2 linked regions of the Homo sapiens genome follow. The protein of the gene in region 1 interacts with the protein of each later gene in a pairwise test. Each region holds a gene or a part of one and is shown on either strand. Other genes may lie near its edges. The genes, in order: YTHDF3 and NMD3.

What was found.
Region 2: the proteins of YTHDF3 (region 1) and NMD3 interact in a two-hybrid assay, tested with the Homo sapiens proteins (one large-scale study listed by BioGRID).

The regions. Positions count from the first base shown.
Region 1 is NC_000008.11:63,185,574-63,189,398, reverse strand, and holds part of YTHDF3 (YTH domain-containing family protein 3), read right to left. Parts: intron 3,253-3,825; coding exon 1,654-3,252; intron 1-1,653. UniProt on the Homo sapiens protein: Specifically recognizes and binds N6-methyladenosine (m6A)-containing RNAs, and regulates their stability. M6A is a modification present at internal sites of mRNAs and some non-coding RNAs and plays a role in mRNA stability and processing.
Region 2 is NC_000003.12:161,245,018-161,248,842, reverse strand, and holds part of NMD3 (60S ribosomal export protein NMD3), read right to left. Parts: intron 2,508-3,825; coding exon 2,395-2,507; intron 1,586-2,394; coding exon 1,513-1,585; intron 1-1,512. UniProt on the Homo sapiens protein: Acts as an adapter for the XPO1/CRM1-mediated export of the 60S ribosomal subunit.

The sequences.
Region 1 (3,825 bases):
ATGTATCCCCTATAGAAAAGCCCATCCATTTTCTCTTTCCACCTAAAAATAGGACCCCAATTTTACGTTACAGTTTGGAAGAGAAAACTTTCCCTAGTTGAACTGACTCTTGTGGCCCTGTGATCAAAGTCTAGCCAATATTTGGGGGGCTAATCCCCATATGGGCCACTCAATAGGATATTTTTAAAAAATAAAAATAAAAATATTCTGGCCAATATAATACAAGGATAAACAGCATGTTTTATTTCAGGAATGTCTCCCTCAATCTTACAGAGGGTATATAACAGAATTAGGAATCAAATTCTGCAAAGCCTCTATTTTGTACAAGTGCTTTAAGTATAAAAATTATAAAAATACTTCAAGAGTTTTATGTTTTAAAAACATATTTTGCCAGGCACAGTGGCTCATGCCTGTAATCCCAGCACTTTGGGAGGCCGAGGCGCACGGATCACGAGGTCAGCAGTTCAAGACCAGCCTGGCCAACATGGTGAAACTCGTCTCTATTAAAAATACAAAAATTTGGCAGGCATGGTGGCGTGTGCCTGTAATCCCAGCTACTCGGGAGGCTGAGGCAAGAGAATCACTTGAATCCGGGAGGCGGACGTTGCAGTGAGCCAAGACCACTCCATTGCACTCCAGCCTGGGCGACAGAGAGCGACTCCATCTCACAAAAGAAAAAAAAAAAAAAAAAAAAAAATATATATATATATATATATATATGTAATTTCTTATAAACACAAAATTAGAGTAAAACATTTATTTAAAAGTTGTTTCAGCTGGGTGCAGTGACTCAGGACTGTAATCCCAACATTTTGGGAGGCAGAGGGGTAGGGGCAGATCCTTTGAGCTCAGGAGACCAGCCCGGGCAACATGGTGAAACCCTCTATCTACAATAAATACAAAAATTAGCCAGGCGTGGTGGTGTGTGACCGTAGTCCCAGCTACTCGGGAAGCTGAGGTAGGAGGATCACTTGAGCCCAGCAGATCAAGGCTGCAGTGAGCCATGTTCACGCCAGTACACTCCTGCCGGGACAAGAGAGACCCTGTCTGAAAAAAAATTAAATAATATATAAAATATAAATAAATAAAAACTTGTTTTAAGTGCCAGGTTCAGTGGTACAGGTCTGTAGTCCCAGCTACTTGGGAGTCTAAGGCAGGAGGATTGCTTGGGGCCAGGAACTTGAGGCTATACGCCATAACTGCACCTGTGAATAGCCACTGCACTCCAGCCTGGGCAACACAGCAAGATGTCATCTCAAAAAAAAAGTTGTTTCAAACTCTAAATATATTTTCTCCTATGTTAGTATGATTAATAATATTAATGATTAGAGCCCCTGGTTAGTTCATGAAGTCTGTTTAGTTACAAATGCCAAAATTCATTCAGCTTTGATGATAAACACTGAGGCCCAATGGCCTTTATCATCTAGGGAGTATGAAGAATGAGCAAGAGGCTAACTCAGCGTGAGTTACCCTGGGAAAGGAAAGAAGAAATGGTTCATATAGGACACACATAGATACCTTCAAGGGTGTTTGTAGAGTTGTTTCTTAAGTAGTTGGTTTCCTTCACAGAAAGTTCTTAAACTCAGAATATACCCATCCATGCACCCCACCAGCAATACAAAGACCCCAAACAAAAAATTACTATATTCTTACCCTACGCATGGCTTCCTCCTCTTCTTGACGCTTTTCATAATGTGCAAAGTCATCAAAGATTGAGGTGGTATGCTTGAAAGTAGCAATTATTTTAAGCACTTGCTTAGCTTTTTCTAGGGGTACCTCTTGAGTGTCCCTTGAATTGGTAACCGGTTTGTTGTCATTATTTTCTAAGCGAATATGCCGTAATTGGTTATTGGGAACATCTTTGACAAAGATCCATTTAACTTCAAATTTGCCCTTCCACTTATCCTGAGACCAGACACCAGCATACGCATTATAGTCCACAACAGACTTCATTTCAGCCACTCCACAAAAATGTCCACTGCCATTCACACTGAAGAGTAAATAGAGTGGGCCTTTCCCATTCAGGGAACGGTAAGCTGCATCCAAACGCTTATTACCATGCTCAGTACTACACCAGATAGAGTATTTAATGGAACGATGTATGTCATCCTCAGAGTAGCTTTTAATTATAAACACACGTCCATTCTTCAGATTCCAATCAAAGTCTTTGGGATTATAGTTGTTTATGGCCTTTAGCTTTTCCAGCACGGGATGCACTTCTACACTAGAAGGTGAAGCACTGACAGGTACAACACCTAAACCAAAGTTTTCACTGCCCGCTCCATTGTTCTGGTTGAAGCCTGCTCCCCTGTTACGAGGAGCTACCCAGCGATTCTGCAGCTGCTGCTGTTGAGGCTGCACTTGGTGAGGCTGGGCCTGTGGCTGAGGTCCTTGTTGCTGCTGTGGTTGTGGTGGTTGAGGCTGCTGTTGAGGCAGTTGGCTTTGCACCAATGGTGGTGGTTGAATTAATGGCTGAGGCTGCTGGATTATAGTTTGAGGAGGCAGAACTGGTTGGGTTGGTGGAGCCTTTACCACTGACCCTTTTTCATCCCAAGTTCCAATATTCATGTTGTGTTTTATAGGAGGTGGTGGTACAGCAGAACCCCCAATTCCCACATTGCCCTTGGGTTTAAGTTTCGGTTGAGGTTTGGCAGGCTTTCTGGCAATGGCAGCCCAGGAGGTTGGTTTAGGTGCTGCACTGCTAACTGGGGGCACACTATTGGTTGCAATGCTAGTCATACCACTGCTGCTCAAAGCTGTACCTACAGTTTTTGTCACTGCAGCTGTCAGGTCACCACCAATTTTCAGTCCAGTCATGCCTTGCTCAATACTGCTAATGCCAGGCACCTTACTCAAAGTATCATTGCCAAATCCAGCCTGTCCATCAGTAATAGCTCTCCCAAGAGAACTAGGTGGATAGCCATAACTGCTACTATAAGCAGAACTTTGTGTTGATTGTCCCTGAGATCCACTTGTCCCCCATGTAGAGAAATCAGCATTACCAGGAAAAAAGTTAAATCCATGTTGACCAAGAAATGGAGGGGTATTTCCTAATGCCCCAGGTTGACTAAATACACCATCTGGTATATAGTGATGTTCTCCATTACTCATTTGTCCATAGGTTGTCAGATATGGCATAGGCTGGTCTCCAGCTGTGGACCACGCTGCTTCCCCAAGAGAATATGGAAATCCAATGGATGGAGCATAGTAACTAGGCATGTATGGATCTGACATTGGTGGATAGCTGTTACTCTGCAAAACAAAATATCACAATCAGTAGCGAAATGTCCTCTTAAAAGAGCAAAAAAAGAAATCTGAAAGATTAAAATCAAGAAGTTTTAAGTAAATGAAAATAAAAGATGTACCTATTCTAGATAAACAAAATTAAAATTTCAAATCCAGTTTTATCAACAGAAAAATTTGCTGATGAGTAGTCACATCTTAAAATATTTCTTACAAACTAACCTATATGGCTTTTTTCAGGGATGAGAGTGGGGGTATAATGAGTATTATTTTTGTTTGAAGAGCCAGGCCCTCTGTCACAATTTAAAAATATCATAATTTCTACAAAAGGCTAATATATAAACTTTGTGGACACAAAATTACCATTTACAGCCAGCTGTACTTTAATCAATTGATGTATGCAATCACTTACACACAAGGATTAAATAAACTAGACAACTCTGCCGAATAATAGAGGAATTACAGCTTATCTATATGATGGAATCCAGTTCAACCATTAGATTTTGTACTTTCATTAAGGAAAAAATGGAGAAATGCTCACAGTCTTGAGAAGATTCAAGATTACGTTTATAGCATGATGCA
Region 2 (3,825 bases), on another chromosome or scaffold:
CATGGCTCTACTTTTTTTGCTCACTGCTAAAGAAATCAATGTTTATTCTAAAAGATTAAGCAAGTATAGAAGACAGGGTCTTTCACACTAATTTCATTCAGTTTCTCATGATTCTTAACCTCATCATGTTAGAACTTAACAGATTTTTCAGAATTAATAGTTTTTTTCCAAGGCTTGATACTGTGAAGATTATTTTTCACGGATATTTTATTCAGCTTTGAATAACAGCCTTAACTCTAAATGCCTTCTTAACTGAACAATGTATGTGAAACGAAGTGAGCCTAATAAAAATGAACCTGAAAAAATGCTAAATGTCATCATTTTTAGCTGCAAATTTATTTATTTATCTTTTGGAGACGGAATCTTGCTCTATCACCCAGGCTGGAATGCAGTGGCATGATCTTGGCTCACTGCAACCTCCACTTCCCAGGTTCAAGCAATTCTCCTGCCTCAGCCTCCTAAGTAGCTGGGACTACAGGTGCATGCCACCACGCCTGGCTAATTTTTTGTATTTTAGTAAAGATGGGGTTTCACTGTGTTTTCCAGGCTGGTCTCGAACTCCTAAGCTCAAGCAATCCACCCACCTCAGCCTCCCAGAGTGCTAGGATTACAGGCATGAGCCACCGCACCCGGCTAAATTTATTTTTGCTCTACAGATAATATCAGGTATTTTGATCGAGAATGAAAATGTGATTAGAAAAGGAACAATCACAATAAATCTTGGATTTACCCCACCAAGAAAAATTATTTAAAATGAAGCCAGGCATGATAGGTGACACCTGTAATCCCAGCTACTTGAGAGGCTGAGGTGGGAGGATCACTTGAAGCCAGGAGTTCGAGACCAGCCTGAGCAACATAACAAGACCCCGTCTCTACAAAACGTGTTTTAAACATTAGCTGGGAGTGGTGGCATGTGCCTGTAGTCTCAGCTACTCAGGAGGCTGAGGTGGGAGGATTACTTGAGCTCAGAATTTTGAGCTGCAGTGAGTGATCATGACACTGCACGCAAGCCTGGTCAATAAAGCAAGACTCCCATTTCTTTTTTTTTTTTTTGAGACTGAGTTTTGTTCTTGTTGCCCAGCCTGGAGTGCAACGGCGCAATCTCAGCTTACCACAACCTCCACCTCCTCGGTTCAGGCAATTCTCCTACCTCAGCCTCCCAAGTAGCTGGGATTACAAGCTTGCACTACCACGCCTGGCTAATTTTTTTGTATTTTTAATAGAGACAGGGTTTCTCCATGTTGGTCAGGCTGGTCTCGAACTCCCAACCTCAGGTGATCCACCTGCCTAGGCCTCCCAAAGTGCTGGGATTACAGGCTTGAGCCACTGCACCCAGCCTCCTGTTTCTTTAAAAAAAAAAAAAAAAAATTTTGCTATTATACCTTATCTGCAGTTTCAGAAATCTCTAAATTGATTTGTTATTTTCAAAAGTGTGAACTCCTACCTCTTACCCCTAAGAGTTACATTCATCCTCTTTAACACAGGAAAAAAGGGAAAAATCTAAAGCCTTACCACATCTGGAACTCTATCTGAGTTCATTTTGTTGACATGCTCATCATTTAAGTTACAGTTGGCCAAATCAAACCTGAAATGTAAACAATGAAAAACTTAGTGACCATTTACCCTTTGTGTGTAACTTTTTATTTTATGGCTATCACCTAAAACTTCCTAAAAATCAAACATTTAATATGCTTCTCACTTTAAAAGTTCTGTCATTTATTACACAATGAACATGCTTCTGTAGATGCTGGTAAAGACAATAAGGAACTCTGAGTTTCACTTATAATCAATTATTGTCCACCTTGCCATACATTTGTAAAAGCAAAACAGACTTACATATCAGTCCAACTTTAGAATTCAATTAGTTGCTTCCTTCTAGTTTATTTTAAACAAACAAACAAAAAAAAAACACCTCATTCTGTAGTAAAAGAAACTGAAATCCTAAAAGCAAAAGCAATATTTGAGGGTTTAATCACACACTCACTGAAAAACTCTGATTCAGAAAGAACTGATCTATGCCTTTACAAGCCCTTTGTATATATATAGTTGTCATATCTTAAAAGTGAGTTATCTGAGCAGTAGCAACTGCACAATAAAAAAGACCCAATCTGCAAAAGCAGTTCTAAATATGGATACAACCATATAACTTCAAGGCTCAATTAACAAAATCTTACAACAAATTACTCTTTAAGATTATAACCAAAATGGAGTAACTATGGGCTTCTGTCCAACCCAGTTTAATTTAGTTATCAACAATAAAATGAGTTATAAGGCTCCTAAGAACCCTTCGATCTTTTTAGAATAAACAATGTTAGTATTTTTAGGTAGTTTTGCTGGTTCCCAAAGAAAATTTGCAATCCTAATTGGCAGTTTAAAATATGAAATAATACAAACCCTAACACCAGGTCTCCGGGATTTAGAAGATGTCCCAAATGAGTACGACAAAAATACTGTTTATCTGTATTCATTTCAGATGTCTTCTGTACCCAGACTTCCCCGAGGGTATGCTTAAGAGGAAAGAAAATGTACTCTTCAATAATCTAAACATAACTCTAAAAGCATCTCAGAGAAAAGTTAAATACAATATTGATTTTTGGTTTTCTAATTTTTAAAGACAGAAAATTTTTTGTATTTTTCTGATGTATGAAACACTGTCAAAATTAACAAATTACTGAATCATGAGTATAGAAAGACTCACAAACAATTCATAAAAATAAATCATTGACTTTTTCTAAGATTTTATTCAAGACTTTTATAAAACATTAATAATGTCCCTAAAAATATATATATGTAGAATTTTCAAAAGAAATGTTTTCACAGGAAGATGGGCCAACATAGGCAGAGTGAACAAAATAACTGAAAAGGTAGGGGAATCTTAAAGCAAGAACGTATTCCAAGCAAACTCTTGCTTGACACAAGGGTTCAGAAAATCAGGGTCCAGACAAAACAGCCTAGAAATCCTGGTAGTAAACCACTAGAGAGGCCAAATCTTTATCAAATTAATTTTTAAAGTATCTACTAGTGTAGACTACAATCATTCTCTACATCTGCTATATATAATATAGTACATCTGCTATATATAATATATATATAGCAGAAACAACATCCCAATTTTTAAACTAGAAAACTATTAATTCCCTTTCTAACATGCCAACACCTTTAACAACAAAGACAGACCAACTGAAGTGAGATCGAGAGAAAAATACTAAGAGTTATAAATAAAATTAAGGAATCTCAAAATAAAGTTATGAAAAGAATCAAGTGTTTCTTATTGCAGTTGGTCAAAGAAAAAGAAATGAAAAAAATGAAAAGAAATAGAGCAGAAGGAGAAACTGAAATAAAAGACAAGTCTCAAACTTAAGAACTGCAAAAGAAAAGTCAATTAACAGGGAGACTACATTTTATTTAACAGGATTTACTTTCTAGCTATTAGACTTCTGCTTGTAAGAAATTTATTAACCTCTTCTAGCTATTTTTTAAAAACCAAGAAAATACAGTATCTGGTTTTATATCTGCCTGAAGGGAAATGATACTCTACATTTATTATAAATGAAAAGTTTGCCCTAAGTACATTACCTTAATTTATAAATAAAATGTAGAATGTCATCTGTCTTCCATTTCCATTAATTTTTCCCAAATTATCACAAGTTATTTTTGTCTCAAGAAGCATTATTAGCACGCACACACACACACACACACAAGGGTACCCTGGGAGTCTCTAGATACTATTTCACAGTAAAAGAAGCCAGACTTTCATCTTTGAAGAAACATTTGATTTCAGATATGGGTTATAAACTATACATGTGATTCTGGAACACCTGAATG